Linked DNA regions of Homo sapiens. The protein of the gene in region 3 purifies or fractionates together with the protein of the main gene of each other region. This does not show direct contact. Each region holds a gene or a part of one and is shown on either strand. Other genes may lie near its edges. The genes, in order: NOLC1, NOP2 and NOP56.

Evidence for each region.
Region 1: the proteins of NOP56 (region 3) and NOLC1 purify together in Homo sapiens (affinity purification with mass spectrometry; 6 studies listed by BioGRID and IntAct, with this or other methods). This does not show direct contact.
Region 2: the proteins of NOP56 (region 3) and NOP2 fractionate together in Homo sapiens (co-fractionation; 3 studies listed by BioGRID and IntAct, with this or other methods). This does not show direct contact.

Annotation. Positions count from the first base shown.
Region 1 is NC_000010.11:102,158,862-102,162,507, reverse strand, and holds part of NOLC1 (nucleolar and coiled-body phosphoprotein 1), read right to left. Parts: intron 3,316-3,646; coding exon 3,200-3,315; coding exon of another isoform or gene 3,170-3,199; intron 3,076-3,169; coding exon 2,940-3,075; intron 2,613-2,939; coding exon 2,484-2,612; intron 2,276-2,483; coding exon 2,165-2,275; intron 2,057-2,164; coding exon 1,415-2,056; intron 953-1,414; coding exon 846-952; intron 676-845; coding exon 583-675; intron 398-582; coding exon 239-397; 3' UTR 1-238. UniProt on the Homo sapiens protein: Nucleolar protein that acts as a regulator of RNA polymerase I by connecting RNA polymerase I with enzymes responsible for ribosomal processing and modification.
Region 2 is NC_000012.12:6,561,649-6,565,294, forward strand, and holds part of NOP2 (28S rRNA (cytosine(4447)-C(5))-methyltransferase), read right to left. Parts: intron 2,601-3,646; coding exon of another isoform or gene 2,502-2,600; intron 2,299-2,501; coding exon 2,243-2,298; intron 2,124-2,242; coding exon 1,966-2,123; intron 1,867-1,965; coding exon 1,667-1,866; intron 1,523-1,666; coding exon 1,433-1,522; intron 324-1,432; coding exon 236-323; intron 157-235; coding exon 16-156; intron 1-15. UniProt on the Homo sapiens protein: S-adenosyl-L-methionine-dependent methyltransferase that specifically methylates the C(5) position of cytosine 4447 in 28S rRNA. Required for efficient rRNA processing and 60S ribosomal subunit biogenesis.
Region 3 is NC_000020.11:2,655,632-2,659,039, forward strand, and holds the end of NOP56 (nucleolar protein 56), read left to right. Parts: coding exon 1-115; intron 116-302; coding exon 303-403; exon of another isoform or gene 404-583; intron 584-769; coding exon 770-918; intron 919-992; exon of another isoform or gene 993-1,063; intron 1,064-1,142; coding exon 1,143-1,264; intron 1,265-1,307; exon of another isoform or gene 1,308-1,379; intron 1,380-1,449; coding exon 1,450-1,587; intron 1,588-1,741; exon of another isoform or gene 1,742-1,857; intron 1,858-2,297; coding exon 2,298-2,663; 3' UTR 2,664-2,762; downstream 2,763-3,408. Other genes in the region: IDH3B (isocitrate dehydrogenase [NAD] subunit beta, mitochondrial isoform e precursor), read right to left, coding at 2,878-2,891, 3,128-3,206. UniProt on the Homo sapiens protein: Involved in the early to middle stages of 60S ribosomal subunit biogenesis. Required for the biogenesis of box C/D snoRNAs such U3, U8 and U14 snoRNAs. Part of the small subunit (SSU) processome, first precursor of the small eukaryotic ribosomal subunit.

The DNA.
Region 1 (3,646 bases), on a different chromosome or scaffold from region 3:
TTAAAAAATAACATTCCCTTATTTTGTCCCTGCTACTCAACACTCAAAAACAAGTCTGTACAAAACTAGGAACACAGAAAAGGACCAGAGAGGATGTTACACTGTAAAGTCTTAGGACCTACTCTAAACTTCTGTCCTCATCAAGACCCTCACCTAGAGACCTGAGGGTTCCCAGGTCCACTGGAGAAAGTAAGTAGTCTCCGATCATCACCCTTGCTTCACCGAAGATGGCCTCAGGTCACTCGCTGTCAAACTTAATAGAATTGACCTGGACAGAGATTGAGCCTCCCCGGTAGCTGCCCCGCTTCTTCTTGGTTTTCTCATGCCGAAAGGACTTGCCTTTGGTGAACTTCAAAACCTGATTGGCTCGCTCTCCCCAGTCTCCGGCTGCACCTCGCTGGTAAGTAGAGAGGGAGATTAACACAGAGGAGGACCATGCTGGAGCCCTGTCACTTTATTCTTTCTACTCCCTGCTCAAGGAAACCTGAACCCAGAGAAGATTCCCACCAACCTGAACCAAGAATTGTCCTCTCTGACACTACCCATCCTCCCTCCCAAGAATGGCACAGATCTCTCTCTCACCTTGGCATCAAAGGAGTTGTCCGCAACTCGTGAATCCACCTCAATTTCCTCCTCCCTGACCCTTCGGAATGGGGATGATGCCCTTTTTTCTCCCTACAGAAGAATGAAGTAGGAAATTAAAGACAGAGTGGTCATGTAACAGTTCTCCTGAGTGATACACATGGGCACATGTACCAGGTCACGCCAGGCAGAGCTGTCAAGATGATCCTAGATTTTTCTACTTTTAAAGAGCTGGCTCCTGAGAAGAAAGTGAGACAACTTACTTTCTTCCTTTTTGGAAATGTGTTAGGGGTCTGAAGCTTTATCTTCTTGGCCTGAGGAGTCTCTGCCTCCTTGGCAGCCTCATTCTGCTTCCGCTTCTTTAATGAACCTACAAAACAAAAAGCCAGACTCAGGCCGAGTACAGTGGCTCACAACTGTAACCCCAGCATTTTGGGAGTCCAAGGTAGGAGGATCGCTTGAGCCCAGGAAATTCAGATCAGCCTGGGCAATATAGTGAGATTCTGTCTCTATAAAAAGTTAAAAAAATGAGCCAGACATGGTGGTGCATGCTTGTAGTCCCGGCTACTCAGGAGGCTGGGGTGGAAAGATCACCTGAGTCCATGAGGTTAAGGCTGCACAAGCCGTGATCATGCCATTGCACCCTGGTCTGGGTGACACAGTGAGACTCTAATAAAAAAAAAAAAAGGTAACCAGTTTCCTGTTCTTCCTCCCAGTTTCCACAACTGGAAGCCCAGTGGTGGGCCTCCTCTCACTACCCTACTCTCAAAGAGTATATCCCATCCTGATTTGGGGGGACAAAACCCAGAGGGCATGTTCATTGGGTACAGACCTGATTTGGAAACTACCACTGCCGCCTTTTTCTTTTCTTCTTCCTCCTCCTCACTGTTCTTAGCTGCTTTTCCATTCTGGGCAGTCAGTGCAGAGGTGCCATTGGCCTTGGGGGCTTGTGGTCTTGGAGAGCCCTTGCCCTTGAGCTTCTCTTCCTCTTCCTCACTGGAGTCATCAGAAGAAGAACTGTTGCTGCTCTCAGCCTTTCCTTTCTTTGCAGAGGCTGGCTTGGAAGGGGCTGCACCTCCTGCTACCTTCTGTGGCTTCTTCTTAACTGCAGACTTAGATGTCTTCTCTTCCTCCTCCTCACTGCTGGAGCTGTCTGAATCAGAGCTGCTGTCCCTACTACCCTGAGGAGCCTGCTTGGCAGGCAGAGATAGAGCTGCTTTGGCAGTCGCCTTGGGCTTAGTGGTGGCCACCATCTTCTTTGTCTTCTCCTCCTCACTGGAGCTGCTCTCTTCCTCACTGGAGCTGCTGTCAGCCTTTCTCGTCAGAAGCTTCTGGCCACCGCCCACAGGTTGCTTGGGGGCTGCAGCTGGCTTCACTGCAGGTGACTTGGTGGTGACAGCTGGCTTATTTGAAGAATTCTTGGTGGTACCAGCTGGCTTAGAAGGAGCTTCATCATCCTCAGAGCTGTCAGAGTCTAGACACAGAAGGGATGGAATCAACAGCTCCCCAAATTGGATTCAGGGGAGCCCTTAGCAGCTGCCTGAGAGCATCTCACTGAACTGAGGGCCTCCATATGCCTTACCTGAGCTGTCTGAAGAGCTCTCTGCTGCTTTCTTTGCTGGAGGTGGTTTAGTGGTTGCTTTAGAGACTACTGCCTTAGTTGGGGGTTTCTTCTCTTCTTCAGAACTTGAATCTGAGGAGAACCTGTAGCATTATGCTGGGTCCAGAGTCCCAACCCAACCAGGACAGCAATAAAAAGAATGCAAAGACACGCACAGAGCCTTAGCTCTGTCTTGCTTTAAGCAAAAAGCAACCGAAGGATGGAAGGCTTTCTCTCTCCCTTATTCCTCATCCCCTCCTCCAGACCCACGCTGAGGGGAGGCTGCATCCCTCTGACTCACCAGACTCATCACTGCTGTCTTCACTGCTTTCCACAGGCTGCTGCTTCTCCACAGCCTTCTTGGGAGGCTGGGTTCCCAGAGACTTCTTTGGTGGGGGAGCAGAAGGCGGGGGGACTGAACTGTAGGGACCTGTTTAAAAAGGATAGTGTGATGGTTTTAGGATATGTCTACAACTTTTTTTGATACTACTTTCTTGTAGAAATGAAGCTTAATTCCCCTTCACTTGAGTATGGGCCAGAATCAATGACTCAGTTCTAACAGAACATGGTGTCACCTCTGAGTCTAGGTTACACAAGGCACTGGAGATTTCTCCTTGCTTTCCTGGATCACTAGTGCTCGGAGAAGCTAGCTGTCATGTCATGAGGACGCTCATGCACCTCTATGGAGAGGTCCATGTGGTTACTGCAGCTGGGCCCTGACCACAGTCACACAGCTTCGCTCCCCATGTCCAGTCACCTGGTTTATTTTTCATGGGTTTTTTTTGCTCCTCTTCCTCGTCACTGGAGGAATCCTCACTGCTAGAACTCTTCCGGGTAGGGGTGGTAGCTGCTTTCACTGGGGCCTTGGCCACAACTTGCTTTTTAGGTACAGTCTGCATTAGAAAGAAAATTGATTACCACAGGAAAATGCTGACCCAACCAATCCTGCCAGGGAAGGAAGACACACACACATCACACCCTGGTCACCTCTGCCCTGACAGAAGTTATGGTCCAGACCTTCTTGGGGGTGGCTGCTGCCTTCTCCTCCTCTGAGTCATCACTGCTACTGCTGCTGCTGCTGCTACTGCTGCTACTGGCTGCTTTACCATTGGCTATTTTAGGTGCTGCTCGAGCTGGAATACCCAAGAAAAAGAAAGAGTAAGGAGTATTAGGGCAAGTCAGGACCATGAAAAACCTCCTTCCTATGAGCAGAGAACTTAGGAGTCCACCATTTTTTTTTTTTTTTTTTTTTTTTTTTTTGGAGACGGAGTCTGGCTCTGGCTCTGTTGCACAGGCTAGTGTGCAGTGGTTCAGGCAACTCTCCCGCCTCAGCCTCTGGAGTAGCTGGGATTACAGGTGCCCACCACCATGCCCAGCTAATTTTTATATTTTTAGTAGACACAGGGTTTCGCCATGTTGGCCAGGCTGGTCTTGAACTCCTGACCTCAAGCAATCCGCCCGCCT
Region 2 (3,646 bases), on a different chromosome or scaffold from region 3:
CTGCCCCTCTCATACCCATGTAGCTGGTCTTTCCTCCAGGGGCACAACACATGTCCAGGATCCGCTCATGTTCCTGGGGTGCCAAGGCCATGACGGGCAACATGCTGGAGGCTCCCTGCAGCATGTAGTGCCCAGCCAGGTACTCGGGGGTAGCACCTGTGGAGAAGGACCACCCTGTGACATGCGGTAGGGACAGGGACAGAGGTAGAAGGGCTCTTGGGTGGGGGAGACTTACCAATGGGCACAGAAGAATCATACACCACTAGTCCAGTCTTTGACCACTTGCCCAGGGGATCCAGGTTAACCCCACGATTGATTAGAGCCTGAAAAGGGATGAAGATTTTTTTTTTTTTTTTTTGAGATGGAGTCTCACTCTGTTGCCCAGGCTAGAGTGAGGTGGCGCAATCTCGGCTCACAGCAACCTCCACCTCCCAGATTCAAGCGATTCTCTCGTGCCTCAGCCTCCTGAGTAGCTGGGACAACGGGCATGTACCACCATGCCTGGCTAATTTTTGTATTTTTCATAGGATGGGGTTTCACCATGTTGGCCAGGCTGGTCTCTAACTCCTGACCTCAGGTGATCTGCCCGCCTCGGCCTCCCAAAGTGCTGGGATTACAGGCGTTGAGTCACCGCGCCCGGTAGGGATGAAGATTTTAATAACCTCATAGGCTACTCTACCCAGAAGACAGATGAAGACATTAAACACATGCTTCATAAAAACATGGCCCATACCCCACAACTCCTATAGTGCTTACTCCAAACACAGTCATCATGGAGTCATTGAGCAGTTTCTCTCTCCCACTCCATCCTATGGTGCCCTTTTTTCTTAACCTCAGGCTCCTAACTCAAGATCTGAACTTCATCCCAATGGAGCAGGATGCCACCTCCTGTTACTTTATTTCCTAGAAGTGGCATCTGATTTTCTAAGAGGCTGAGCCCCTCCACTATACTAAAAATTTAATGACATTGGTTATACCACATTACATTATTAGGTTTTCTTCACACCAGGAAATATACAACACATATAACCCAACAACTGACTTTACAACAGGGGTCTTTAACCTGGGGCCCCTGAACCCTTGGAAATGAGTTTAAAATATTGACTGTGCATATGTGTCTTTTTTGTGCAGTCAGGAATCATATTTCCCCAGCTCCTCAATGATCTCCCTCCAATTTCCTTGGGGGCAGCACGCTCATCCTGAAGTCTCATCATCCTAGTCACAGGGAGCAGAGTATGAACTTCCCATTCCACAGAGGTCCTAGGCCCCCAGATCCTATCCTGCCAGAGACATCAGGCCTCTGGGTTTGCCCCCCCAGGATCATGCTTAGGTCCTAAGGCCCCACCCAGTCAGGGTAGCACAGAGGAATCTCTGGAGTTGGCAGAAGTCACTTCCCTTCTGAGATGAGTGAGCCTCAAAGGCCACCCCTCACCTGTGCAAGGTCTCGGCGTCGGGTTTTCAAGGTATTGGTCCGGAGGGTGACGGGCCGAGGCACCTCATTAGCTTCTAAGAACTCCACCAGCTGCGGGGCAAGACAGCAGGGAATAAGTGAGGCTGGCTAAGGAGCTCAGTCAGAAGAGGGGAGCAAGGGGGCCGAACATCTTCCTTACACAGCGTAAGGAGGCGAGAAAAGAAAAGCAAAAGAGGCATTCTGGCAATCCAGTACCTCAGACAGAGGGAAGAGGTCCATGAGCTTGCCAAGCAGGAAGTCTCCATAGGAGTAGTAAATGGCCAGATCCTTCTTGAGCCGGTTCAGGTATTCAGAACGAGACCGCCCTTCCTCCCGCTGAGCCCCAAAATCACGCAGAATTCCCACAATATCCTGGATCCGCTTGTGAACTCGTTGCAGGTCTGGAGCCTGGGCATGTGGGCCTGTTAAGGAACTGTGTCATGATGTCCTAAGGCCTGGAAATCCCTCTCCCAACCACCTTCCTCCTAACTCTTCACTCTGCCCTGCAAGGATATCCTGCTCCATCTCCCCAGCAGGGGGCAGCACAAATGGTTCCTCATCCACATTGATCTGCAGGCCCCCATCTGCCTCTTCCACCTTTGGGGGGCCTGACTCAGGGGTCACTTCTTTCTCTTCCTCCTCGTCCTCGGTCTCCTCTTCACTCCACTGGATCCTAGAAACAGGTCCAGGAACAGAGTGATTCACAGACCAAAACAGATACCTCCTCCTTCCTCACAGCTTCCCCACCCCAGTGGCTTCCTATGCTCCATCCCAATAGCTTCCAAAACTCACCCAGCAGCAGCTTCCCGGGCCTTCTGCTTCCGAGCAGCTCTTTCAATGGGCAGCAACTGAAGAGAGACAAGGGCTATTAATACAGGCCTGCCCTTCCATCAGCCCTTGTAGCAGTTCTATCTCTATATCTTATTTTTTCGCTAAATAAAAATCCAACACTTGCTCTCAGAAGGAAATAGAGGAGCAAAGAAATGAAAATAAGATGGGCGCAGCATTGCTCACTGTTGAAACTAAGTAATGAGGGCATGGTGGCACACACCTGTAAATCCCAGCTACTTGGGAAGCTGAGGCAGGAGAATTGCTTGAACCCGGGAGGTGGAGGTTGCAGTGAGCCAAGACCGAGCCACTGCACTCCAGCCTGGGCAACAGAGAAAGACTTCATCTCAAAAAAAAAAAAAAAAAACCTAAGTAATAAATTAAAGGGTTCATTACATTTTTCTTTCTACTATTATGTTTTTCACTTTTCCATTAAGAAAAAAAAAAAACTTGAAAAATACCTGGATGTATAAAGAAGGACAAAAATGGCCCTTGACTACCATTCTGCCATATTTTTTTTGAGAGAAGTCTCGCTCTTGTCCCCCAGGCTGGAGTGCAATGGCGCGTCTTGGCTCACTGCAACCTCCGCCTCCCAGGTTCAAATGATTCTCCTGCCTCAGCCTCCCAAGTAGCTGGGATTATAGGCGCGCACCACCATGCCCAGCTAATTTTTTGTATTTTTAGCAGAGATGGGGTTTCACCATGATGGCCAAGCTGGTTTTGAACTCCTGACCTCAGGTGATCCGCCCACCTCGGCCTCCCAAAGTGCTGGGATTACAGGTGTGAGCCACCGTGCCTGGCCCATTTTGTCGTTTTTTTTTTTTTTTTACTTACTCTGTATTTTTCACATAATCCATTTTCAAGTTTGTTTCTTGCTTTTTAGACTTCAGTTACATCACAGGCATTTTCATAGACATAATGACCAGTGTAACTGCATCATATGCATGAACCATAACTTACTTAAGCATATTGTGTATTTTGGAAGTTTCCTGAGTTTTTGGCATTATGATCCACATGGTGCCTGCAAACCTAATAATGACCCTGTAGATACAAGGGGATGTAGGAAGGGGGTGCACATGGGGACCTTCTCTTTTTATTCTATACGATTCTAATAATACATCCACACACTAATTGTATAATAACTTCCTGCACCTCAGTAAAGAACTATTTGCTGACATTTTGGATCATCTTCCTTAATAGGGAATTACTATGTCAAAAGGAAGCAGTTATTTTTTTTTTTTTTTTTTGAGACAGTCTCACTCTGTCACCCAAGCTGGAGTGCAGTGGTAAGATCACAGCTCACTGCAGCCTCAACCTCCCAAGCTCCAGTCATCTTCCCGCTTCAGCATCCTGAGAAGCTGGGACTAC
Region 3 (3,408 bases):
GAGCTTCTCCAGTCGTGTGGTGTCTTTATCTGAATACCGCCAGAGCCTACACACTTACCTGCGCTCCAAGATGAGCCAAGTAGCCCCCAGCCTGTCAGCCCTAATTGGGGAAGCGGTGCGTCACAGGGGACTCAAAAATGGGAGAATAAGGACTGTTGCCATGTGCACCTGCACTGCTGTATTTCGTGACCCACCATGTCTTCCCTAGTTGTGCTTGATGGGGAGGTGGGGAGCAGGGCTGTCGTGCAACTGGGCAGGTCAGCAGTTCATTTCTCTGACTGCTTCCTTGACTCTCTCTCCAGGTAGGTGCACGTCTCATCGCACATGCTGGCAGCCTCACCAACCTGGCCAAGTATCCAGCATCCACAGTGCAGATCCTTGGGGCTGAAAAGGCCCTGTTCAGGTACCAGTGAGGGCACCTGCCCACAATCAGGTGCCACTTCTGGTGCCCACTGCTTGTTGGGGGATCACGGTGATGGCTGACCAGGGCTCCCTGACCTATACAGGCCTCTGCTATGGGGGTGATGGCCAGTCCTGGTGTCTGAGTGATTCCCAGGGCCCAGCAAAGGGACCAAGTTTCCAGGTCAGCGACATTGGATGCCTTCCCTCTGCCTCTGGGAGCTATGGGTTGGCATGCATTGGGGTAGAGATCCAATCTGGCCTGAGGCTCACTCAGGACTTCGGGGTGAGAGGAGGGGAGGAGCTGAGCTGCCTTGGCTAATGGGGTTGAAATTTCTGATCTTAAACTCTCCACTGAATATTCTCTCAGAGCCCTGAAGACAAGGGGTAACACTCCAAAATATGGACTCATTTTCCACTCCACCTTCATTGGCCGAGCAGCTGCCAAGAACAAAGGCCGCATCTCCCGATACCTGGCAAACAAATGCAGTATTGCCTCACGAATCGATTGCTTCTCTGGTATGGGTGGGGGGGCGTTGGCAGGTGTGAGAAGGGGCTGGGTGGCTGGGTGGGGAGGCTTGCAACCATAGCTTCCACAATGATGGCAATATTTTTCGTCAACAGCAGTTCACCTAGTGAGTGTTGAGACTCTGGGTCTGAGTGAAGCTGAGGGTAGAGGGAACACAGGGTTGGGGTAGTTTCTCTCTTTGGGCTGACAGGCTTTGTCACCCACACACATCCAGAGGTGCCCACGAGTGTATTCGGGGAGAAGCTTCGAGAACAAGTTGAAGAGCGACTGTCCTTCTATGAGACTGGAGAGATACCACGAAAGAATCTGGATGTCATGAAGGAAGCAATGGTTCAGGTCAGTTGGGCTTTGCTGGGTGTGGAGTGGCATAGCTAGCTGTTGGAGGTGATGAACTGTCTGAGCCTGACCTTGTAGAATGGAGGCAAAAAAACTGATTTAATGAGCCTGATCCAATAAAGCCAGAAAGGAGTCCTCAGAGCACCAGAAGTCTTCAGGCCCTTTTAGCACTTTTCTTTGACCAGGCAGAGGAAGCGGCTGCTGAGATTACTAGGAAGCTGGAGAAACAGGAGAAGAAACGCTTAAAGAAGGAAAAGAAACGGCTGGCTGCACTTGCCCTCGCGTCTTCAGAAAACAGCAGTAGTACTCCAGAGGAGTGTGAGGTCAGTAGGCAGCACGGCCCTGGCAGAGATCCTAGGTTGTAGGATTTTCAACAGCAGAACAAAGGATATGCTGCATCAAGCTGTGGTCTTGAGTCCAGGCTTTTGGACTGAAACAAGGACCTGAAACATCTAAAACTACCTCTTGATTCTATAGGAAGGAGATAGGTGCTGAACTTGCTCAAGAGCCCAGAGAGCTGGTTGTAGCTCACACCCGTTCCCTGGGCATGTGTGTTCTGTCCTCGGCTGCCTCCCAGGAGTCCTCAACCTGGGGTAGTGTAAATTCCTGCTCTGCTTATTATCAGACGTGTGTCCGGAGGTGGTCGTGTTTCACAGTGGGGATGGGGGCAGGGAGGTCCCCAATGTGCTAAGCTACAATCATTCTCCCTGAGATTTTCATTTAGCACCCAGTTTCTTAAACAGTGTTTCAGGGCCCTGTCTGGAACTTGGCATGATGGTTCTGTTGCGACCAGCATGGTGGGTGTTTTTTAGGTTTTTTTTTTTAATGGGCTGAGGTAATTTCTCATGACATGTTTTCCTTCTAATTTGGGACAGCCTTTGGGGTGGATTTCTAAAGTTATACCCACACAATTAAACTATCCCAGAAACACTGGGCAATGTTAACGACACGCGTTCCCCTGCCTTGGCTACTTAATTGCTGAAGATGTAATGAGCACTGTTCTCACAGCCTGTTCCCCTGTCCTTCCCTTTAGGAGATGAGTGAAAAACCCAAAAAGAAGAAAAAGCAAAAGCCCCAGGAGGTTCCTCAGGAGAATGGAATGGAAGACCCATCTATCTCTTTCTCCAAACCCAAGAAAAAGAAATCTTTTTCCAAGGAGGAGTTGATGAGTAGCGATCTTGAAGAGACCGCTGGCAGCACCAGTATTCCCAAGAGGAAGAAGTCTACACCCAAGGAGGAAACAGTTAATGACCCTGAGGAGGCAGGCCACAGAAGTGGCTCCAAGAAAAAGAGGAAATTCTCCAAAGAGGAGCCGGTCAGCAGTGGGCCTGAAGAGGCGGTTGGCAAGAGCAGCTCCAAGAAGAAGAAAAAGTTCCATAAAGCATCCCAGGAAGATTAGAATGCAAATGGACATTCTCTGGGAGGTGGGGCATACCATAGCCCAAGGTGACATTTCCCACCCTGTGCCGTGTTCCCCAATAAAAACAAATTCACAAGAGTTGGTTCATGTTCTTTATTGAACACCTTACATGGGTATGGACAGGGCCTATGGGTGGGGCAAGGCAGCAATGACAGCCTCAGTGAAGTCATGGCAAGTAGCATAGCCACCCATGTCAGAGGTTCGAACCTGTGGGGGAGAATCATCATCATCCATGTGGCCTGGGCTCCATCCTAACAATCCCCATCACCACCCAACAGTCTGTCCCCTAAGGAAGCCGGCCCAAGGACAACCTAGGCTCTACCCAGCAAGGTGACCATGGTCCACTGCTTAGAGGCACAAGGTCTCTTCCCTGGTACACTGCACTGAAGGGTATGGGGAGTGTGGTCCTTGCAAGGTTGGAAGAAATAAAGGGCTCTAGCTCCCTTTAGTCTGCAGGTGACCGATGACAGACTTGATGAAGTCGGTTGTGGTGCTGTAGCCGCCCATGTCTCGAGTCCGCACCTACAGCCACCACCGGCAACAGCCGTGGGGAGGGAGAAAAGAGAGCCCATGAAGGGAGGTAGGGCAATGTGATTGAGGAAATGGAAGCCAAGAATGCGTGACAGCCAGAAAAAAGGCAATGCACAGGAATGGAAGGAGGAGCCAGGATGGGAAGCACATGGACCTGCCACTCCTCTTAAGCCACTATTAGCTGTGCTGCAGC